Homo sapiens: one gene and its partners. The protein of the gene in region 1 purifies or fractionates together with the protein of each later gene. This does not show direct contact. Each region holds a gene or a part of one and is shown in the gene's direction. Other genes may lie near its edges.

Region 1 (3,500 bases):
CCTCCTGCTGTCTCCATAGTGGTAACTCCTTCCAAACTGTTTGGGGACTTTTACAGCTTTCTTATGTCAAACTGCCCTAAGAGACTGAGATGAAGAGAGAGAGGTTGAGTCACTGTAATTCCTTCTTGTTAATATAAAAGAGGGAGGGGTAACAGTTACATAAGGTTCTCTTTTTTGCTTTGCAGAATGCATCTTGTCTTGTTCTTGCAGCCCGGCATGCCAGTGCTTCCTCCACGGTAAGGTTTGGAAAAGAAGACTAAGAATAAGAATCATTGCGGCCAGCCTGACCTTGGGGCAGAGGATTTGGCAACCACCTGGCCTCTTATTATCCTGAGTATTTCCTGGAAGTGTTTGTTACTATTGTTATTGTTATAGCTGCTATTATTATTATATTACTATTTAACAAATAATTTACTCAGTGGTATAGTGAGATGGGAATATCAATACATTTGCCTAATTCTTTTAAATGTTTTAAGTAGTGTAAAATATACATAACATAAAATTTACCATTTTAATCATTTTTAAGTATATGGTTTAGTGGCAGTAGATATGTTTACATTATTGTGCAACCATCCATCTCCAGAACTTTTGTCTGCCCAAACCGAGAAACTGTTCCCATTAAACATTAACTCCTCATTCCTTCTTCCCCCTGCCTAATTCTTTTACCCTCATTTGTGCAGAGTAGTTGACCAGACTTCCCTGGCAGATAAAGCCAGCTTCTAAAAAGCAAATTCTTGACACACCTACTTTGCAGGAAATCTAATAAACTTTTAGACCATTGCTTAGTCCTTCTACTTTTCTTTTTAGAATTTGAAAGACATATTGGCTGACCTGATACCTAAGGAGCAGGCCAGAATTAAGACTTTCAGGCAGCAACATGGCAAGACGGTGGTGGGCCAAATCACTGTGGACATGGTAAGGGTTGTGTGGCTTTGGCTGGGAAAAGTAGCTCTGTAATGTGCTTCAACAAAAGTAACATTCTCTCCACTGACTATTCAAAAGCATTCTGTCCCATAGGCCCTGTAGGACAGCTTTAGGATGACTTTTCCCCATCCTTCAGATTCTGAGCAGCTCAGCTGATAGTTTCTCAACAGTTTTTAGCTTATTGGTCTCCATCCCCTTCTCCTAGACTAGAACTCATTCTGTTTGTTTTGATTGGTTGGAATTTGAGGGTAGGGTATGTTGGGGAGTGGTTGAGTGGGCAGGAGAAAAAAAGTGAAATACAATAAGAAAAGGAATCAAACAGAGGGCGCAATGGCTCATGCCTATTATCCCAACATTTTGGGAGGCTGCAGTTGGAGAATCACTTGAGGCCAGGAGTTAACAACCAGCTTGATCAACAAAGGAAGATACAATCTCTATGAAAGAAAAATTTAAAAAATTAGCCAGAGATGGTGGGATGCCCCTGTAGTCCCAGCTACTGGGGAGGCAAAGGCAGGAGGATTGCTTGAGCCCAGGAGTTCAGGGCTGCAGTGAGCCATGATTATGCCACTGTAGTATAGCCTGGGCAACAGAGGGAGACCCTATCTCCAAAACAAACAAAAAGAAAGATAGTGATTTCTCAACTTAAAAAATTTCATTTCCAGGCCTGTTGCAGTGGCTCATGCCTGTAATCCCAGCACTTTGGGAGGCTGAGGCGGGTGGCTCATCTGAGGTCAGGAGTTCGAGACCAGCCTGGCCAACATGGTAAAACTCCGTCTCTACTAAAAAATATAAAAATTAGCTGGGCATGGTGGCAGGCAACTGTAATCCCAGCTACTCAGGAGCCTGAGGCAGGAGAATCACTTAAACCCAGGAGGCAGAGGTTGCAGTGAGCTGAGATTGCACCATTGCACTCCAGCCTGGGCAAGAGTGAGACTCCATCTGGGGGGAAAAAAAAAAAGATCAGCCTTGGCAACATGGCTGGCAAAACCCTGTTTTTTTTTTTTTTTTTGGGACGGAGTCTCACTGAGTCACCAGGCTGGAGTACAGTGACGTGATCTCGGCTCACTACAACCTCCGCCTCCCGGGTTCAAGCGATTCTTCTGCCTCAGCCTCCTGAGTAGCTGGGATTACAGGCCCGCACCACCACGCCCAGCTGATTTTTGTATTTTTAGTAGAGACAGGGTTTCACCATGTTGGCCAGGATGTCTCGATATCCTGACGTCGTGATCTGCCCGCCTTGGCCTCCCAAAGTGCTGGGATTACAGGCGTGAGCCACTGCACCCGGCCTAAACCCCATTTCTTTAAAAAAAAAAAAAAGAAATACAAAAATTAGCCAGACATGGTGGCACGTGCCTATAATCCCAGCTACTCAGGAGGCTGAAGTGGGTGGATCACCTGAGCCTGCAAGTCAAGGCTGCAGTAAGCCGTGATTGTGCCACTGTGCTGCAGCCTGAGTGACAGACTCTGTGAGAGGCTTAGTGATCTTCCCTCCTCCTCAGCCTCCCAAAGTGCTGGGATTACAGGCATGAGCCCCACCGTACCTGGCCACAAAGTTTGTTTTTTTTTTTCTTTTTTTTTTTTTTTTTTGAGATGGAGTTTTGCTCTTGTCACCCAGGCTGAAGTGCAATGGTGTGATCTTGGCTCACTGCAATCTCTGCCTTCTGGGTTCAAGCGATTCTCCTGCCTCAGCCTCCCAAGTAGCTGGGATTACAGGCACATACACCATGCCCGCTAATTTTTTAATTTTTAGTAGAGACATGGTTTCACCCTGTTGGCCAGGCTGGTCTCAAACTCCTGACCTCAGGTGATCCACCTGCCTCGGCTTCCCAAAGTGCTGGGATTACAGGTGTCAGCCACTGTGCCTGGCCACAAAGTTTAATTCTTTAGTAAGCTGACTCCTCAGACATCTCTCACCAAATGAAGTCTTACAAGTCTGAGAATAAATTTTCTCTCCCAGATCCCATGAAGCTCTAACAAGTTCTAGTCTGAATCATTCTGATTACTGGCCACAGCCTCTTTTTTTTTTCCTTCTTTCTTCATCCTCTTTAGATGTATGGTGGCATGAGAGGCATGAAGGGATTGGTCTATGAAACATCAGTTCTTGATCCTGATGAGGTAAGACATCTTCATGTCAATTACTAATAATCATTGAGTTTGTGCAAATACGCAAACCGTGGATTAGACCAGTAAGGGTAAGCACAAAACAGAGCACCTAGCTTCATATATTGGAAGGTAGAGAAGACATATGTATGGAATAATTGAAGAACAAATTTACCTTTTAAATATATCAACTAGTAAAAATAAAAGTACAAAACCAGAGGTAAGTTATGTGAAGATTTAAGCTTAATTTAAAGTTCTGTTCTGGACTGGGCGCAGTGGCTCACACCTGTAATCCCAGCACTTTGGGAGGCTGAGGCGGGCAGATCATGCGGTCAGGAGGTTGAGACCGTCCTGGCTAACACGGCGAAACCCTGTCTGTACTAAAAACACACAAAATTAGCCGGGCATGGTGGCAGGCACCTGTAGTCCCAGCTACTCGGGAGGCTGAGGCAGGAGAATGGCGTGAACCCAGGAGG
Region 2 (3,500 bases), on another chromosome or scaffold:
CATGGCCAGGTTCTGAACTCATGGTCTCACAAGGCTGAAATCAAAGTGTTGGCCAAGGCTGGGGACTCATGTGAAGCTTGGGGTCCTCTTCCAAGCTCATGTGGTTGTTGACAGAATGCAGTTCCTTGGGACTGTAGGACTGTGGCCCTTGTTTTCTTTCTAGCTCTCAGCCAAGAACCACTGACAGCTCCCAGAGGCCACGTGCAGGGCCTTGCCATGCGTGGTCTCCATAGGCGGTTCACAACATGCATGTTTGCTTCTCCCGGGCCAGCAGTTTTATCTCTTTACTTCAAGTCTCTTCTTCCAGGAAGGCCTAATTTCTTTTAAGAGATTACCTGATATATCTGCCCTCTCCAGGGTAGTTTGCCTTTTGGTTAACTCAAATGCAACTGATTTGGAGCCTCATATATCTATAAAATGCCACCAATTTTGTCACATAATAGGACCTAATAATGGGAGTGACATCCATCATATTCACAGGCCAGATACAGTCAAGAGGGATGATATGGGGCATGTACACCAGGGGCAGGAATATTGGGGCCATCTCAGAATTCTTCCTACCATGTTGCCATAAGTAAAGGGGTCTTCTCAAATATGCTCAACAGGTGCTAGCTTTTATCTTTCATCAAATTTTTGGAAAAATAATACCAAAATATTAACTGAGAAATAATTTTTCCTTAGATTTTGTGTCATCCTGAAGTTCTTTTTAGATTATATAAAACAATTTTTTTTCTTAAATTGGAAAAAATACTTTCCAAAATACTTATTGGATATTAAAATGTTCCAAAAATTATTTTAAGAAAATATATTGCCTAATACCACTGTAACTTAGCATAGTGAGTTGAGGGCTTAGCATATTTAGTAATCTAATTATATCCTCTTACAAGACAAAAATACCTTTGTTTTACAGAGTAATACAAAGGCAAGTCTGTAACTAGTTATTTTTCATTCTAAAAGATATCATAGGTTAGATTTGTTATATTAGATTGTACTGATGGCATATTAGCAAAATTAAAAATGGTTTGATTTCCTGGTCATAAATAAGCTGATTTGCACTATAATAAACAATGAATAAACAATAAGTGAACAATGATGTAGGAAGTATCCTGGTGAAAGCCATATTTACAATAAACTTGACACTTTTTGAATGCCATGTGAATATTATTTCATGAGTATAAAGGATGAGAGTGGTTTAATTAATTGTTCATCTACCAAATAACGTCCACTGCACAGAAAAAAAGACTAATTTCCTTTTTAAAAATCACTACTTATGCCCAATTTTAATAACATTTTAATTGTTTGGCTTTTGAAAATATGCAAATATTAGAACGTGACAAATAATGGTCAGCAGACCAGGTAAGAGACAGGATTTAATTTTCTAGCTCAAATTACTGGTTTTTAATTATAACCTTGACATCTGTATATTTCTGTATCTTTTCTCCACATCTCACCTGCGTTTTCTGAAAGTTCTGTTATATTCCTTATTGCTAATTATGGTTATCTACTTTGCTCTTATTTCCAGGGATGCTCTCAAACTTGTCCAGTTGAAACAAACGGGCAAGATTACCGAGTCCAGACCAACTCCAGCCCCCACAGCCACTCCCACAGCACCTTCGCCCCTACAGGCCACAGCTGGACCATCTTATCCCCGGCCTGTGATCCCACCAGTATCAACTCCTGGACAACCCAATGCAGTGGTAGTGTTCTCTAAGTGGATTTTTATTTCTTTTTCTTGTTTTTCTTTTTTTTTTTGAGACAGAGTCTTGCACTGTCACCCAGGCTGGAGTGCAATGGCACAATCTTGGCTCACTGCAGCCTCTGCCTCCCAAGTTCAAGTGATTCTCCTGCCTTAGCTTCCTGAGTAGCTGGGATTATAGGCACGCACCACCACACCCACCTAATTTTTGTATTTTTAGTAGAGACGGGGTTTCACCATGTTGGCTAGGCTGGTCTCAAACTCCTGACTTCAGGTGATCCACCCGCCTTGGCCTCCCAAAGTGCTGGGATTACAGGTGTGAATCACCGCACCTGGCCTAGATTTTTATTTTTCAGATTCAAGTGTGAGAGAGAAAATAAGAACAATTACTATGTGTTTTAAGAGTAGATTTAAAACAGATTAGTTTTATTAATCCGTTTCAATAGTAGCTAAGTGATAAGGATAAAACACTCCAAATGCTTTGTTTTACAGATTTCCTATCAGAAACCAAAATTTGTTTGTGTGTTAACTTCCAAATAAACATTAGAACTATAATTCAATTTAAAGTTACCACAAGTTCCACAACTTCAGTAACATATATATTCTCTACAATCTCATGTTTCATGTCTTAAGTGTGATACTAATAATTAGTAGCTGACACTAGCTCCCTTTTGTGGATATGTTCTACTTTTTAACTAGGGAATTGATAATCTCACTATGAAGAACTATGTAGCTAGTCATTCTTTCCTTCTCAGATGCATGCAGTATAACAGCCCCTTTTTGTTTTCAAATTACTCCATTTTGCCTCTCTGTGCCTTTCCTATTCAGGTTATTTTCTTCCTATCAGAAGAAATGTAGGATAGCCCAGTTTATTTAAAATCGAATGGGCACTTAAAAAAATAAATAGATAAATGTGTACTCCTAGTGGAGAACTATATACCATATGATATTTTAAAAGAGTTGAAAACAGTACAACTTTCATGGGAAACAGATTTTTAAATATCCATTAATGATTAATATACTGCATACTTGAATAACCTGCTCTTTAAGGACATGCAGTTGGATAAGATACTATGTATATTGAGTGTATAGTCCACTCTTTGACTATATAATGTATATGGACTATGAAATATGTATAATTCAATCATATGTCTTTTAAAAGTAGGTTATTCAAGGCTGGGTGTGGTGGCTTACACCTGTAATCCTAGCACTTTGGGAGGCTGAGGTGGGAGGATTGCCTGCACCTAGGCATTCAAAGACCAGCCTGGGCAACATAGTGAGACCTCATCTCTACAAAAAAATTTTAAAATCAGCTGGATGTGGTAGTGTGTGCCTGTAGTCCAACTACTCAGGCGGTGGAGATTGGGGAATCACTTGAGACTGGGAGGTTGAGGCTGTAGTGAGCTATGTGCACTCCAGCCTGGGTAATAGAGGAAGACCCTATCTCAAAAAAAAAAAAAAAAAGTTATTCAAATTAAGGAGGTAAACCTTACTTTCAAATTCTTATGGTATGTAGAGAGCATTTATTCTACTTGACCAAGTACTTTGCTAACATAAAATGTTTAATTTCTTAATGATATTTGTAAAAATGAAATCAGCCGCACTTTCATTTGCTTTGTATTATCTTGAAGTGATTGTAATGAAATCCCAAAATAGAGTGAAGGACAAGAAAGGAATTAGATATAATTTAAAATCTGTCATGCTTTTTTGAGAGATCCAAGGAACAGAATGGAAAAACTACAGTGAAGTTATAGGAATATTTTATTATCTCATTCATACTTTCTATTATGAATCTGTAAGAAAT
Region 3 (3,500 bases), about 40 Mb from region 1:
CCATGTTGGCCAGGCCGGTCTCGAACTCCTGACCTCAAGTGATCTGCCCGCCTTGGCCTCCCAAAGTGCTGGGATTACAGGTGTGAGCCACCGTGCCTGGCCTTTTTTTTTTTTTTTTTTAACAACCTCACACTAAGGAGCAATTGTAAATCTGCTGCCTCCTTCATTTTAAGTACATTAAACATACCAATTTTAGAATGAAAAAATGAAGGCTGATTGACTGTGGTGGCAGATACGTGACTGTATGCTCTTGTTTATTGAAACAGTGTTGTTTTTATGCTTTCTTAACATTTCAAGTCTCAATGTCTGTGTTTACAAGTGGTGTATTAAGAGCATGAAGGCTGGAGCCAGATGACCTGAATTTGAATTGGTGGCCTCATGCACTTTATTTAACCATTTTTTTTTCTGTCATGGTACCTAATTCATAGGTTGGTTTTGAATATTAAATAAGTTAATATGTTTCGAATACTTACAACATTGCCTGAAGTCTATTACACCTATGAAAGTGTTACATATGTAAAGTAACGATGATAGCTACCATGTAAACTATCACCACCCGCACTTGATCAAAATCACATATTATTTTGAAACTAATATGGCTAAAGCCTTCAAACTATTTGGCCTCATATAAGGAAGATTGAATAGATTTAAATGTCAAGAAGGAAGATTTTTGTGATTTTTTTTTCCCCCTCCTCAGTTAAGGCTTTAGGTGCTGTGTTAGAGTGGAAAATAATAACAAGCATTGGCACTAGGTGGGCTTGCATTCGTGTGCTAACTATGCTGTGTATTTCCAGTTTGATCATCATAGGATTTTTTTTTTTTTTTGAAACAGGGTCTTAGGTGCCTAGGCTAGAGTGCAGTGGCGTGATCATAGCTCACTGCAGCCTCTATCTCCCAGTCTCAAGCAGTTCTCCAACCTCAGCCTCCTGAATAGTGACCACAGGCGTGTACTACCATGCTTGGCTAATCTTTGTGTTTTTTGTAGAGATGGGCTTCACCATGTTGTCCAGGTTGGTCTTGAACTCTTGGGCTCAAGCGATCTGCCCACCATGGCAGGATGTTTCTTAAATGTCGGCTTTCATATCTGTAAAATGGGACTAAGACCCATGAGATTATTGGAGGAACAGAGAGATCTTTCTCCACCATATATCCCTGAAGTCCAATATGATCTCTGTCACATAGTAGGTGCTCAATAAATGCTAGTTGAGATTTATCCCTCATTTCCTCTATGTCTTGTCTGTGGGGTGTAGGAGCGTGTTTTCATGTGCGTGTTTGTGTGTGTGTGTATTCTCTCCAAGAAGTTACTCCCCACAGCCTACCTGATTAGTCATGGTTGGTATAAAGCATTTTTAGAAACAATTTTTTTTTCCCTCCATTCTTACGTTTCTTGGAAAACTCATTTATGGTGTGGTCATTTAGAAGTGGAATTTGGTCCCGTTTCTTGTGGAGAAATTTAGCAGAATAGGTCTGTGGACTAGTGTAGAATGTTATCTTGGAGTAATTCGGGCAATTGAGTCCAGTGTTGAGTACAGTGTCCCTAAAACACCATCTCTTTGTATCTATTTGGGAAGAGTGCCAAAGTAAAGACAATTCTGTGCTGTGCTCCCAAGAGGGCTTAAGTAGATCTGGGATTGGGTCCAGGAATTTATAGGTAATCACAATGTATCACTCTTTCTTTCTTGTAAAGCCAATAGAAATATCTAATTTTAGTTTTAATAAGGTTCTTGATAAATCGAAAATGGTATTATCTCCTAGATGACTTGGTCAACATGTTAAGGTATTTGGGCAATTTTTTAAAAATCTTAAACTGGCCTGTTTTGTTGAAGGTTTAAATAAGTAAGTTAAGCAGCTCCTATTATGAGACTTACGGTAAGTTCATTCTGAGGATATGGAAAGTATCAGGCAGCATTATTATTTGCAAGAAACTGGGGTATAAGAGGTAACAGTAGTTTAAGGAGATGACAAGTACTTCGTGGGATGTGAAGAAAATGTTGGAGGGTTAGCTGCTGAAAGGGTATTGTTAATAGCGCTTTACTGTCTTGATTTGAGCCCTGTGGCCAACTAATATATGTCAATTTCTTGCCTGGAGATTGAATAATACATTAGGAAACATTTAGATTAGATCCATTTTAGGGCTCTTACTGTGAATAATGGAAATCTGCCAGAGTTAGTACATGCCCTGTCAGAAAATGTCATGCCTCTATTTTAGTACTGTTTCTAAATAGGAGGAAAAACTACAGACACATTACCTCTCTGGTTAATATTACTACTTTGGTCACTCCAACTCTCTTCTCACCTTTGAATAGACACAGTCTAAGCAGAATCTTAAGATTTTAGAGCTGCCATGTTGGCGTTAGCCTGTAGCTACTTAGGAGGCTGAGGTGGAAGGATCTTGAGGCCAGGAGTTCAAGTATAGCTTGGGCAATATACCAAGATCCTGTCTCAAAAAAAAAAAGAGAGAGAGGTTTTAAGTTTATGGGAGATTATTTAATAAACTTGAAATTAGCATATCAAAGGACATTGCCCGGGTTTCTTTGGAGACTTGTGAATAATTAGAATAGTAATTTTAGATACATTTGTTGTTTTCTTCACTTTTGATGCTTTCTGTCATTCTAATACTTGTGAACCCTTACCACAACCATGAAATGCATTTCACTGTGATTAAGGATATATGTAAACAAAAAACAAAGCAAATTTAAGCACCGTAATAAGTGGAGTTCTGTGGGAGAACAGAAAGGAATGGTTAATTATTGGAGTTGAGGATAAATAGTTTCAAAGAAAAGATAGCATTTGAAATGAGCCCTAAGGGTGAGTAGAACTTTAATAGCTAAGAATGTAAAATACAGACTTAAGAGAATAATATAAACAAGAACATAGGAGCCTGGAAGAAAATACGTAAGTTATTTGAGGAGTGGTTTATAATCTAGTGTTGCTAGATTCAGAGAAACAATACAAAATGAGGTTGGGAAAGTAGATTGGGGCCAGAGAGTTGCATTGGAATGACAGAGAGAGGAGCAAGTTTCCTGGGCAAAGAGAAATGAATACTAGGGAGTTTAGCAGCAAGGCTACTTATAGTTGACATTATTTCTTTCAGAACATATTTATTCAGCCACTCACATGACCCACATTATTAAATATTGCAAGCTTTGGTAGTGTATCATGAGCATTCCTGTTAGATGGTCTTTCATATTCATTAACCACATTGCACATGCTATTAATGCTTATCTAGAATAGCCTTCCCTTCTTTTTCCCCTGATATATTTCTCTTTGCTTCTTCCGACGGCTAGCTCTGTTACTTACATTTTCTGGACAATATCTAGGTGCTTTTTTCTGAGTTTTTATAGCCATATATATGTCTTTTAATTATATTTCTTAAATGTGATATTTAATGCATGTTTTTCTCCTCAGCTAAAGCTCTACTATGGCAAGAACCTACTGTGGGGTATTTTTTGTCTCCCATTTGTGCCTTAGCACTAAGTATAGAATGATATATATTTAAT
Region 4 (2,406 bases), on another chromosome or scaffold:
GCATCTTCAGTGGTGGGGCCTGGCTGTGTGTTTCTTCAGAAGCTCTGCGAGTGACTCTAAGGTGCATTCCTGGTCACAAACCTGTGCATGGAGGGGATGGGTGCAGCAGACAACTGAGACAGCCAAGAACAGGTTCTCTGTGCCTTGCCCTCCCTTCTGTAAAACAGGGCTGGAAGTTGGGACTGAGACATAGACATAGGCCGATCATGAAACTGGAAGGGACTTGAAAACCATCAAGTTTAATCCCCTTATACAGATGGGGAAATTGAGCCCCAGGTGGGGAGGGGAGTGACTCGCCCCAGATCACTGTCAGGTCAGTGGGAAGGTAGGACTAGAGTTAGGCCGTCTGCCTCCCCATCCAGTGCTCTTTCTTCCTGCATGGATTGGGTATGTACCAACCTTCTAAGTCTAAACACCCTTACTGACCCTGTGGGGACCGGAAATACACAGGTAGATCCAGATTCAGAAGGATATACAGTGAAAATTCTCCCTCCCACTCCACCCAGCCACCTCCCTAGAAGTCAGATTCTTGTGTGAACTTCAGAGGTGTTTTATGCTGCACACAAATGCATATGTGTCCTCTTCTGTCTTTCTTATATCACATTTATCTGTATTTTTTCACCCACTATATTTTGGAGATTATCCCATGTTGGTATATGAAGAGTGTCTTTTTGACCAGCCTGGACAACATAGTGAGATCCCATCTCTACAAACAAAATTTTTTTTAATTAGCCAGGTGTGGTGGCACGCACCTGTAGTTTCAGTTACTTGAGAGGCTGAGGCCGGAGGATCACTTGAGCCAGGTGTTCCAGGCCACAGTGAACTATGATCACACTTCAGCCTGGATGACAGAGCAAGACCCTGTCAAAAAAATATATATTTTTTCTTTCTCTTCTTCTCTCAAGATCTCTTTTCTTTCTTTCCTTTTCTTCTTTCTTTCCACAACACTTTTTTAGGGGGGTAGACTTATCCTTCTAAAATGAGGGGAACCTTCACTAACGTCAGATGAGTACTTGTCTCATTTTACCAAGTACTTGCTTGGTAAAAGCAAGTACTTGGTAAAGTACTTCCTACTTTCTACTTCAATGAAGCTGGCATTCAGTGGGTTTAATTATTGTGCCTCCTGCAAAGCAGATGTTAACAGCTGTAGGGGCAAACTGCAGCTAATACCAATGGTATTGGCCAGTTGAAATCATCATGGTTTTACAAAGGGTTAATAGAGAGGGTAGTTTCTTCCACATACTTTTGAGAGCTGGTATATGCTGATTTCTGCTGCTGCCTATTTAATAATGATGATGTAAAAGATTTAGAGATGTCTGGCTGATTTTGACATTGGCCTGTAGTCCTAGAAGAGACACTACCCTGAGTGTCTTTGAGCAGTCAGAGAGTGCACCTCTGCCCTGGGCCTGTTTACCTGTTAGAGTGAGCCACACAAGAAGGAATTCAACGTGGCAGAGCTCTTGCCAGAGGGAGCTGACCATCTTCAAATGTTAAAAAAGGTAGACAGAAGAGAGCCCTTAGCCCAACCCCTATGGTTTTGAGGGACTTGATTTGCATTCACCTTGCTTGGACACTGAACCAGCTGAGGAAGGAGTTTCACCCAAGATTGTGGGTTTTCCCTTTCAGTTTCAGTTATCATTTGTTATTGATTCTTTTCTCTTTTTTCAAGGGTCTGAATCCAGGGAAAGCTATTGCAGAGATCAAGAAAATGATGGCAACCTATAAGGAGAAGAAAGCTTCAGTTTAACTGTTTCCATGCTAAACATGATTTATAACCAGCTCAGAGCTGAACATAATTTATATCTAATTTGAGTTCCTTTAAAGATCTTGGTTTTCCATGAATACAGCATGTATAATAAAAATTTTAAGAAATAAATGTTATTCTACTTTATTAACAAAAAAAAAAGAACCTGTTCCTTTACTTGCCGCAGGGGAATGTGAAGGTGCCAGGAGTCCTTGTCCTTGGAGAGATGGACAGGGCTTCAGAGCTGAGCGGGGGTGGGGGTACCCTAGCTGGAAGGAGGTGATGAGCCGTGGAACTGACATCAGCAGGGCCTGCAGCTTGTTCCCAGCTTTGCCACTCACCAGCTAGACAACCTTGGACAAGTTCCTTCACCTCTTTGCTGCTCCATTCGCCCATCTGTAAGATGGGATCCATAATTGTGCCTACTTCATTCATCTGGTATGAGAATGCCTGGCACTTATTCTGAACACTCAGTTAGTGTTAGTGTTCTGTATCTTCCCAGTTTCTATAGTTTTCAGTACCAGAATTACTGAAAACCAAATCTTGGTAAGTCTTTGGATACGTCGGTGAGGCCAGGTTTGAGATTCCTCCAGCACAGAGCAATGACCCTGGTCAGTTGTGAATCCAGTTAGTTCCACAAATGACCTCGTGGGGCCTCTCAC
Region 5 (3,500 bases), on another chromosome or scaffold:
AAAGGAGGTGTTCATTTAACAAAAGAGTAAGTCTGGAGGTTGTTATTCCTTGTCTTTTGGCCAAGCAGTTATGGAAGATCTTGCTCAAGATTGAAAGGCACACTGAGGTTGGTTGTGGTGGGGTAGGAGCGGGCCAAAGCAACTAGAAGAAACTGAAATCATAGGTAGAGGGCTCTGGCAGTGCCCTAGTTTTCCTTCTGCCCCCACAAAATGATTTTTCTTACTAATTGGTGAAAACTTGACAGTCCTTCTGTCCTAAACAATCAATGATTCATCATAAATGTTGGAAATGATACCACTTCCAACTGAAATGCTACTTCCATAATGTCACTCCTCTATTCAAGGACCTGAAGGGACTCCCCATTACCAGTGGCATCTGGGGTACCTCCCCTCTGATAGTCCAAGCCTTCCTTTATTTGAGCCTGTCTTTTCAACTTCATCTCCTGCATCTCCTAGCACTGAACACTTTCCTCTCCTCCCTGTTCCTGTCACACACCTTTTTACTATTTACTTTGATCTTTACCCTCTTCCTTTCCCTCTCATTGTTCAATATCTCCCCAGTTTTCCACTGTCGGATCTTCAGTCAACCCTTATCTGAATCTGGTGTGCATTTCAGCATTCTCTCTTTACTATGACTGTAACTTTTTTGGGTGAAGAGGTCACAAAGCATCTTTTGTTTCATTTATTCATTCATGAACTCACTTTTATTTTGCTCTCAGTGAGCCTCTAGTACAGTGCTAAACACGCAGCACATAAGCAGAAAGACTCATGGATTTTGTGAGGGTGAAGGTGAACCCTTTGCAGTGTAGACATGAGGCTCTGTGTAAGGACTCTCATTTAAATGATTTTCAACAAACATTCATTTTCTGCTTGTTTTCTCTTTCTCTTAGCCCTAATGTTGTGGGACAGCTGGCTAAACAGATGATTGGGTACAATCTAGCGACAAAACAAACTCCAAAAGAAGGTGTGAAAGTTAACAAGGTAATATGGATACTTTGGGTCATTTTCTATATATGTGTTAAAAAATAGAAAAGAAAACCATCCTTCAGTTTTTGACAGAATCTAATGAAGTACTGCTCTTTGGCAGTGTGCCATTTTATTTTTTAAAGCTCATCTAATCTGTTTAGTAAGTAGTATGTCTTGGAGGAGAAATAAAAAGGGCTCTATGATAGTAATATTATTTATTATCATTAGCATTTAGCAAAAAGTGGGTGAGGGTGAGTGACCGAGCAATGGCTTTCCCTCTGAGAACACAGATGCATTCTATTTAGTTGAGAAGCGCTTGCTGTGACAGCCTTATACTCAGTGAGGGACATTCGCTGCTCCCACACAGTGGCCCTCAACCCCAGGCGTGTCTGTCAGAATTACCTATTGTGGTTGTTTTTCTAAATGCCCCATTCCTTATTTTAGGATGACTGTAATTTTGAGCCATTTTTATTGCTGGGGGTATATTGCATTAGGAAGGTCAGCTGAAGTACCCAAGTATGTATAGCATGTGGACACACACCCCTCATCCACACATAGAAAATAAAGCCCAGAGGAAAGTGGCCTGCCTCAGTCATGAAATTGTGAGTGGTAGAGCTGAGACCAGAACCTAACTCTCCCTCCTGCCAATCTACCTTTCACCATCCCTTTTGTGTATCCAGACACTAGAACTAGCTACCTGGGTTGCAGAATCCAGTGCCAAATAAAAAGGCAGGGACCCGTGTTAAAATTTCAAGACAGCTATAGCTAAACATTAAATCCCTTTACAACTACACAGATCACATGTGTCAGCCCTGAAAAGCATCCATGGTTAGAAGATCCTGTCCTAACAGCGAATTAGGGTCCTGCATTTTGGGGTGGCAGCTGTCTGCTCTGTTGACATAGCGTCACAGATCAGTGGTCTCTACCAATGCACCATGCTGCAGGACACTGCAGTGGTGACATCCTGTTTTTACTTTTCAGGGAGAGTTTTGTGGAAAACTCTTAAGTTGTTGTATTTATCAGTATTTAGTTCCATTTTCTTTTGTTAATTTTTGTGGGTACATAGTAGGTGTATATATTTATAAGGTACATGAGATGTTTTGATATAGGCATACAATGTGTAATAATCCCGTTACAGTCCTTTTTCTTGCTATGTAGCAATCTATGATATGGATGTACCTACCACAGTTTGTTTAACCATCATCTGTTGAAAGACATCTGGGTTGGTTCGTTTTTGGCTATTACAAATAAAGCCACTCTAGACATTCATGAACAGGTTTTTGGTATAAATATAAATCTTCATTTTGGGGGATAATTGTTGGGTTATGTGGAAGTTGTATAATTAGTTTTTTTAAGAAACTGATGAATGTTTTCCAGCATGGCTGTTCCATTTTACATTGCCATCAGCAATGTGTAAGTGGTCAGGGTTCTCCACATTCTAGCCCGCATTTGGTGGTGGTGGTATTATTTTAGCCATTCTTATGGGTGTGTAGTGATATTTCATTGTGATTTTAATTTGCATTTCCCTAATGGCTAAAGATGTTGAACATCTTTTCATGTGCTTATTTGCCATCTGTAGATTGTGGTTGGTGAATTGTCTGTTCATGGATGCTATGGTCTGAATGCTCCCTCCAAAATGCATGTTGAAATTTAATCCCCATTGTGGTTTGCATTAAGAGGCAGAGCCTTTTGGGAAGTGATTAGTCATGAAGGCTCTGCCCTCATGAATGGATTAGTGCAGGCTTGTCCAACCCACGGCCCACAGGCCACAGGCATCCCAGGATGGCTTTGAAAGTGGCCCAAGACAAATTTGTAACCTTTCTAAACATTATGAGATTTTTTTTGCAATTTTAGTTTCTTAGCTCAGCTATTGTTAGTGTTAGTGTATTTTATGTGCGGCCCAAGACAATCCTTCTTATGCCATTGTGGCCCAGGGAAGCCAAAATATTGGACATCCCTGGTAGTGCTTTATAAAAGGGCTGAAGGGAACTAGCTTAGACCTGTTTTGCATTTCCACTTTCTGCCATGTGAGGATGAAGCAAGAAAGGCCATATCACTAAATGGCGGTGCACTGATCTTGGACTTCCCAGCCTCCAGAACTGTGAAACAATATATTTTTGTCCTTTATAAATGACCAAATCTCAGGTATTTTGTAACAGCAGCATGAAGAGACAAAGCAAATTTCTTTTGGCCATTTTCTAATTAGATTATGTTTTTACTATTGAGTTTTGAGTTATTCTAGGTACTAGTCCACTGTTGGATATGTGCTTTGTAAGTATTATCTGTTACACTATATAACGTATATATTCATTTTTTCAACAGGGTCATTTGCAGGGCAAAAGTGTTTAATTTTGATGAAGTCCAATACGTCAATATTTCCTTTATGGATTATACCTTTTTAGTATCAGGTCTAAGTCCTCTTTACGTTGCCCTACATAATAAAAATTTTCTCATGTTTTTTTCTAGATGTTTTATAGTTTTATGTTTTATATTTAGGTTTGTGATCCATTTTGAGTTGACTTTTGAATAAGTTG
Region 6 (3,500 bases), on another chromosome or scaffold:
TAAAATTCAATTCTCTCAGTAAATTTTCATAATTTTTATTTATGTAAATTATTTCTGTAAAGTTTTTGTCTTTTATCATGGGATTTATTTCCCACCACTAACAGTCCAATTACATTATATTCTGTTCTTGGTTTAAAGGAGTAACTTCTGGGGGTCCCGTATGTTTTGATGTGATTATGTGGCCATAAGACTGATTCCAGTAGCCACATGGAAATTCATTTCATTATTTTTTAGTTTATTTTCTGAGTATCAGTGAGAAGTATACGTTTTACAAAACTCACATATTTATCATTTTAAATCAATACATTCCCATGTTGTCATAGTTGTTTAATATTTTCAGTACCATTATTGGCATTATCCTGCAGGTTTCATGATAATAAAGTGAGATTATTGCCAACTATGACAACCCATTGAGTTATTTAATATTTTCTAGTTTTTTTTAAATCCATGAAATGCTCAATCATAATTCATCATTTAAAGCTAAAAATTGTGCCATTACTCCAAATAAGAGAGAGAGATTGTTTCCATTTTTTCCTAAGATCAACCATCAGTGTCCAAAATGTAATACCACCTATGTCCTTTGTGAGGTCTGTGAAACACACTTCATCTCCTTTTTGTGGGGTGGTTTTAAATAGAAGTTTAGTTCTGATTTTAAGTGATAAAATTTCATCTTTTCATAGGATATGAAGAGATCACATTTTATGAATATTTAAAGACTCAAAAATTAACCCCCAACCTCCAATATATTGTCATGCATTCAATTGCAATGACATCAGAGACAGCCAGCAGCACCATAGATGGTCTCAAAGCTACCAAAAACTTTCTTCACTGTCTTGGGCGGTATGGCAACACTCCATTTTTGTTTCCTTTATATGGCCAAGGAGAACTCCCCCAGTGTTTCTGCAGGTAAGTTTGCCATTGATTTTCTTGTCCCTTCTAAAAGTGATACTTGAATAACAGATGAAAATTAGGCAGGCAAAAATGAGATTTATTCAAGATTTAGTATATGCAAATATATACTTTATTCTATTTATTTTTTATAATCTATTTACCTACCTATCTACCCACCTAAGTGATATATTCAGTGTGGCCTCTTTTTGAGCTTGATAAAAATACTATAAATTCCTTTTTCCACTCAATAGCATGATGGAAAGTATTGTCATTGCATATAATTTTAGTTAATTTTTTATTACTATATAGTATGTTATTGTGAATACACCACAATCTATTTTTTCATTTTTCTGTTGATGAACACAGGATGTTTCCAGTTTTTTGAGGTTAACACCCTTGTGTATGTTTCAAGTTGTGTATGTTCAAGAATTTCTCTCGGAAACATATCTAGGGGTGGAATTCCCCAGTCCTGAGATACATGAATGTTAACACTTTACAACATCGTGTTCAGTTATTTCTCTAGAGGGCTGTACCAATTATAACCTTTTAGCCGTACATAAGAATACCCAAAGCTTTACATGTTTGCCAACATTTAAAATTTTTTTGTCAACCTAACTCACATAAATTATCATTGCATTGGATTTTTATTTTTCATTTCCCTAATTACCTATGAAGTTGAACCTTTTCTCATATGTTTACTGGCCATTCATGTTTTATCTTCAGGGAATACTTGTTTGTGTCTTTTTTTGTTTGTTTTACACATTTTTAAAAATTTTTATTTTTTGTGGGTACATAGGAGGCATATGTGTTTGTGGGGTACATGAGATAGTTTAATACAGGCATGCAAAGTGTAATCCATCATGGTAAATGGAGTATCCATCCCTTCACACATTTATCCTTTGTGTTGAAAACAATCCAATTATACTCTTCATTTTAACATGTACAATTAAATCATTATTGACTGTAGTCACTCTGTTGTAATATCAAACACTAGATTTTATTCATTCTTTCTAACTACGTTTTGTACCTATTAACCATTCCTACTTATCCGCTGCCCCCTCAAAACCCGCCCCAGGCTCTGATAACCATCCTTTTACTCTCTGTCTCCATATGTTTAATTGTTTTAATTTTTAGCTCCCGCAAGTAAGTGAGGATATGCATTGTTTGTCTTTCTGTGGCTGGCTTATTTCACTTAATATAATGACCTCCAGTTTCATCCATGTTGTCATGTTGTTGCAAATGTCAGGGTCTCATTCTTTTGTTTTTTTTTTTTTGGGAGATGGAGTCTTGCTCTGTCACCCAGGGTGGAGTGCAGTGGTGTGATCTCGGCTCACTGCAACCTCTGCCACCCAGGTTCAAGTGATTCTCCTGCCTCAGTCTCCTGAGTAGCTGGGATTACAGGCACGTGCCACCACACCTGGCTAATTTTTGTATTTTTAGTAGTGATGGAGTTTCAGCATCTTGGCCAGGCTAGTCTTGAACTCCCGACTTTGTGATCCACCCATCTCAGCCTCCCAAAGTGCTGGTATTACAGGCGTGAGCCACCATGCCCAGCCAGGATCTCGTTCTTTTTATGGCTGAGTATTACTCCAAGGTGTAACTGTACTACATTTTCTTTATCCATTTATCTGTTGCTGGGCACTTAGGTTGCTTCCAAATCTTGGTTATTGTGAACAGTGCTGCGACAAATGTGGTATGTAGATATCCCTTTGATACACTGATTTCCTTTCTTTTGGGTATATACCTAGCAGTGGGATTGCTAGATCGTATGGTAGCTCTATTTTTACTTTTCTGAGGAACTTCCAAACTGTTCTCCACAGTGGTTGTACTAATTAACACTCCCACCCACAGTGTTCAAGGGTTCCCTTTTCTCCGTATCTTTGCCAGCATTTGCTAGTGTCTTTCTTTTGAATAAAAGTTATTTTAACTGGGGTAATAAAATATCTCATTGTAATTTTGATGTGCATTTCTCTGATGATCAGTGATGTTGAACACCTTTTTATATGTCTCCTTGTCATTTGTATGTCTTCTTTTGAAAAATGTCTATTCAGATCTTTTGCCCAATTTTTAGTCATATCATTAGATTTTTTTCCTGTAGAGTTGTTTGAGCTACTTATATATTCTGGTCATTAATTCCTTGTTAGACGGGTAGTTTGCAGATATTCTCTTTCATTCTGTGGGTTGTCTTTTCACTTTGTTTATGGTTTCTTTTGCTGTGCAGAAACTTTTTAACTTCATGTGTTCCCGTTTGTCCATTTTTGCTTTAGTCGCCTGTGCTTGTGGGGCATTGCTTAAGAAATCTTTGCCCAGACCAGTGTCTTGGAGGTTTTCTCCGATGTTTTCTTGTAGTAGTTTCAAAGTTTGAGGCATTAGATTTAATTCTTTAATCCATTTTGATTTGCTTTTTATATACTGCAAAAGATAGGGGTCTAGTTTCATTTTTCTGCATACAGATATCCAGTTACCCCAACACCCTTTATGGAAAAGACTGTCTTTTACCCAGTGTATATTCTTGGCACCTTTGTCAAAAATGAGTTCACTGTAGGTGTGTGGATTTGTTTCTGGGTTCTCTATTCTGTTTTTTTGGTTTATGTGTCTGTTTTTATGCC
Region 7 (3,500 bases), on another chromosome or scaffold:
ATGTGACCTCTTGAGTTCTGAACCTGAGGTGATTCAGTGGAATGTCCTCGGGCATTCTGTAGCCTTCAATTTTAAAGAGTGGGATAAGGGACTGCGTCACCAGATAATGTGAGTAAAGTGCTTTTAGATCACCAGATGAAAAGCATTTTATAAAATCCCAAGGTGCTGGTGTTAGTTTGTTATTGTCATCAACAGAAATAATTGTTACTTTTAATCATATTGGGGCAGGTGGGGCTCAGTTACCTTAGGCCAATATAGGAATAATAAACTGTTGAATTGGGAAAAAAGAACCAACCCTATGCTATGCTTATTCAGTTTCTCATAGAGGGCATCATGGCTTTCTCTGCAAGAACATTTCTTACCCAGTGTTCTAATGGGTGATTCCAAAAGACCAAAAATTCAGCTTCTACCTCTTCAGGATTGTAACTAAAAAGCATAGAGGAGCAAAAGAAACACACAGAGAAAGAAAATGAGACTTGCTTTCCTAATTTTGAGGTTAATTTTTTTCTTTTTTCACTATAACAATAAACACTCTTCTTGTCCAAAGAGAAATCTTTGTTCTAGGACTGCCCTTCACTGCTGTGCCCTTGTTTGTGATTTTGATATTCTTGGTATTTGTTACTACCATCTATGTCAGGTGAGATGGGCCCCTTACAAGAGCTAGTCCTTTGATGTCCTTTGGCCAGGTGAAGCCATGTTCTGCTTCCAATCTGAACAGAGCAAAGGATTCTCAAGTCAGTTTTCCTCTGAATTCAGAGTCCCTTCTTACCCACATACATGTAAGTGAAATGGAAAACAGTCTTTCTTTCAGAAAGTACTTTTTAACAGCAGCCTGTGGAATTTTAGCCTTGGTGTCTAAGAAATACCCTGAAAGAATTCTCTGATAAAGATACTTGTTTTTCTCCAGGTGAGACACAGTAACCTGGTTGAACTCTGCATCTGGAAAGCTGAAGACTGAAGAAAGATAAGAGACATTGACTAGTCTGGAAACAGGGACATCTTTGGAACTTCGTTTTCATCCACAGTAAACTTTTGAAGTGTCATCAATTGGAATTGATTTCTTCATCTTATTCTGCCTATTGGGAAGAACATGGCTTCAAGGATTTTAAGTTTCCCTTTAGTTTTACATGAACTTTGTAGGAAACAGAGCCCTTAAAGGGCTTGGGAATAACAAGAAGAGATTGAAGACAGAGAAGCTTGCCCTGTTTTCCTTGCCCCTTCAAAGAAAAGGATTTACAGCTCAAACTTAGAACAGCTGTTGTCCAGCTTTAGCCATCAAGAGAGAAATAAATTAAACCACCATTGCCAGACTACAAGCCCTGGTGAAGTCAGGGTGTGGGAGTGGTGGCATTGAGAAGACTACCTAAAAGAGACAAAGACTGCAGTAAACAAAGCTCCTCTTTAAAGTTGGAAGGGGCCTCAGGTTCCTTCTTGGATTGAAATAGAAATAGAAACACAGGGCACACCTCTTTTAGGTGCAGCTCACATTTTATGGAACTGTAGTCGTGGAGGTACTATAGTATCTCAGAAGAATTTTTCTTTGCCCAAAGTTTTTTTGCCATACCCTGATATTCTCTCCTTCTTTTGAAGACCTGCCTCCATCCATGAGCTGTATCTTGATCTGTCTGACTGTCCATGTTTTCCACCTGCAACCATTTGCATGTGTACAGCCTACTGTTTGTCTCCAGTTTTTAAACTGTACAAGTTGTGTTTCTTAATCTTCCCTTCTGCCTTGTTCTGGGGAGGTGGTTATTCATCATTTGGAATCACCTTTCCCCCTCCCATGTGCTTTCCTTCATTTGAGATCTTTTGACCTTTGGCTTTATTTGGGAGGGGGAAGGGTGATAAAGTTTTCTGTTTCCCTGGTTTTCTTTTGTACTCCTCTCTGTTGCTTCCCTCCTCCCATTTTCTTGTCTGTTCTGCCGCTGTGTGGGCCTGGGCTATGCGGCAGGGCAGATTTCCCATCAGAGCTCCAACATGCCCGCAGAGTCTGGAAAGAGATTCAAACCCAGCAAGTATGTCCCGGTCTCTGCAGCCGCCATCTTCCTAGTGGGAGCTACGACACTCTTCTTTGCCTTTACGTGAGTTTTCTCCCAGCAGGGGTGTTTGGGTGGGTGGATACTCCATGGGAAGTGAGGAGATAACGCTTTCTCTTGAGTTTTGCAAAGCCAAGTGACTGAGAGGGCTCAGCGTCTGGTACAGGTAAATCCAAATCCCAGAGACATGTAAGAAAAATGAGAAAAAGCCTGTCCTTTCAGTCGTGTTATCAGTTTTACTTCGCTGAATCTTCTACCTACCCTTTCCTCCTTTATTTTGGAATCATAGATGTCTTCATATTTTTCTACCCAGCTCCATCATTAGATGATCCTAAGCTAGGAAGGAAGTGGGAGGAAACCACCAGAGAGGCTTAAAGCAGTTTAAGCAGTCAATTCTATGAGAAAGAGAACTAGACTAGACTAAAGGCTTTTTTTTGGAGGCAGCGTCTCTTGCTCTGTCACTCAGGCTGGAGTGCAATGTCGCGGTCTCGGCTCACTGCAACGTCCGCCTCCCAAGTTCAAGCGATTCTCCTGCCTCAGGCTCCTTAGTAGCTAGGATTAAAAGTGCCAACCACCACACCTGGCTAATTTTTTTTATTTTCAGTAGAGATGGGGTTTCACCATATTGGCCAGGCTGGTCTCAAACTCCTGAACTCAAGTGATCCATCCACCTTGGCCTCCCAAAGTGCTGGGATTACAGGTGTGAGCCACCATGCTGGGCCGACTAAAGCCTTTTTAAATGCTAATGGCTTTTTTCCAGGATGTCTGAAACTTAGGTTTGAGATTGTGGAAACTGAGAGTATTGGAAAATTTCAGAATTGATTTATAAGATACACCAATGAGAGAGTTTTGGCTTTTAGTGCTACCCAGATGGTTTTCTTTGTACTCTTAAGAACAGAAGCCTGGAGAAGTGAAGGCCACTGAGAAAGGAAAGGGTAAGTTGTATTTGGGAAGAGAGTCCTAAAAGAGTCCCTTTATGTTAGTTTCTGCCGAGGGAATGACAGTAATTTTCCCATTACTTGGTTCTGTTGGGAAAAGCAGTTGGTATGAAAAAATTTCCCATTTAGGATCTAGGATCTGCATCATTCTCACTTTGATCTTCAGACTTTCTTCATTTACTTGTTATTGGAAGAGACTGAGTGATTTAAACCTTCCCTTTTTCCTCAGTTTTTTTTTTTTTTTTATTAAGCTCTTGACCATCTGGAAGGCATCCTTGCTGTTACCTGTTTATAAATTAACATGTACCAGGCTTCTGAGCCTTATACTGTTGAGTCATTGATTTAGTGCTCTAGTTGCAGCTCTTGGAATCATCAGAGCATGCTGGATCTTCTGGGAAGTTACTTTGTCATGGTTCAGGCTCAAACCTAGTTGTGAAGTGTTATTCAGAGCAACATGAGGTTGCTGGAAAGAGGAAGAAGTGAATTGAAGTGGTAGGGAATAAAAACACTTGGGCTCATTGAAGTA

What was found.
Region 2: the proteins of CS (region 1) and PDHX fractionate together in Homo sapiens (co-fractionation; one large-scale study listed by BioGRID). This does not show direct contact.
Region 3: the proteins of CS (region 1) and STRAP fractionate together in Homo sapiens (co-fractionation; one large-scale study listed by BioGRID). This does not show direct contact.
Region 4: the proteins of CS (region 1) and SDHB fractionate together in Homo sapiens (co-fractionation; one large-scale study listed by BioGRID). This does not show direct contact.
Region 5: the proteins of CS (region 1) and SUCLG2 purify together in Homo sapiens (affinity purification with mass spectrometry; 2 studies listed by BioGRID, with this or other methods). This does not show direct contact.
Region 6: the proteins of CS (region 1) and CHM purify together in Homo sapiens (co-immunoprecipitation; one large-scale study listed by IntAct). This does not show direct contact.
Region 7: the proteins of CS (region 1) and ZDHHC5 purify together in Homo sapiens (co-immunoprecipitation; one large-scale study listed by IntAct). This does not show direct contact.

What each region holds. Positions count from the first base shown.
Region 1 is NC_000012.12:56,283,331-56,286,830, reverse strand, and holds part of CS (citrate synthase, mitochondrial precursor), read left to right. Parts: intron 1-185; coding exon 186-236; intron 237-807; coding exon 808-915; intron 916-2,973; coding exon 2,974-3,039; intron 3,040-3,500. UniProt on the Homo sapiens protein: Key enzyme of the Krebs tricarboxylic acid cycle which catalyzes the synthesis of citrate from acetyl coenzyme A and oxaloacetate.
Region 2 is NC_000011.10:34,965,118-34,968,617, forward strand, and holds part of PDHX (pyruvate dehydrogenase protein X component, mitochondrial isoform 1 precursor), read left to right. Parts: intron 1-1,522; coding exon 1,523-1,697; intron 1,698-3,500.
Region 3 is NC_000012.12:15,885,387-15,888,886, forward strand, and holds part of STRAP (serine-threonine kinase receptor-associated protein), read left to right. Parts: intron 1-3,500. UniProt on the Homo sapiens protein: The SMN complex catalyzes the assembly of small nuclear ribonucleoproteins (snRNPs), the building blocks of the spliceosome, and thereby plays an important role in the splicing of cellular pre-mRNAs.
Region 4 is NC_000001.11:17,018,222-17,020,627, reverse strand, and holds the end of SDHB (succinate dehydrogenase [ubiquinone] iron-sulfur subunit, mitochondrial isoform 1 precursor), read left to right. Parts: intron 1-1,669; coding exon 1,670-1,747; 3' UTR 1,748-1,906; downstream 1,907-2,406. UniProt on the Homo sapiens protein: Iron-sulfur protein (IP) subunit of the succinate dehydrogenase complex (mitochondrial respiratory chain complex II), responsible for transferring electrons from succinate to ubiquinone (coenzyme Q).
Region 5 is NC_000003.12:67,525,613-67,529,112, reverse strand, and holds part of SUCLG2 (succinate--CoA ligase [GDP-forming] subunit beta, mitochondrial isoform 2 precursor), read left to right. Parts: coding exon 1-26; intron 27-890; coding exon 891-981; intron 982-3,500. UniProt on the Homo sapiens protein: GTP-specific succinyl-CoA synthetase functions in the citric acid cycle (TCA), coupling the hydrolysis of succinyl-CoA to the synthesis of GTP and thus represents the only step of substrate-level phosphorylation in the TCA.
Region 6 is NC_000023.11:85,953,559-85,957,058, reverse strand, and holds part of CHM (rab proteins geranylgeranyltransferase component A 1), read left to right. Parts: intron 1-680; coding exon 681-906; intron 907-3,500. UniProt on the Homo sapiens protein: Substrate-binding subunit of the Rab geranylgeranyltransferase (GGTase) complex.
Region 7 is NC_000011.10:57,671,114-57,674,613, forward strand, and holds part of ZDHHC5 (palmitoyltransferase ZDHHC5), read left to right. Parts: intron 1-907; 5' UTR 908-1,977; coding exon 1,978-2,081; intron 2,082-3,500. UniProt on the Homo sapiens protein: Palmitoyltransferase that catalyzes the addition of palmitate onto various protein substrates such as CTNND2, CD36, GSDMD, NLRP3, NOD1, NOD2, STAT3 and S1PR1 thus plays a role in various biological processes including cell adhesion, inflammation, fatty acid uptake, bacterial sensing or cardiac functions.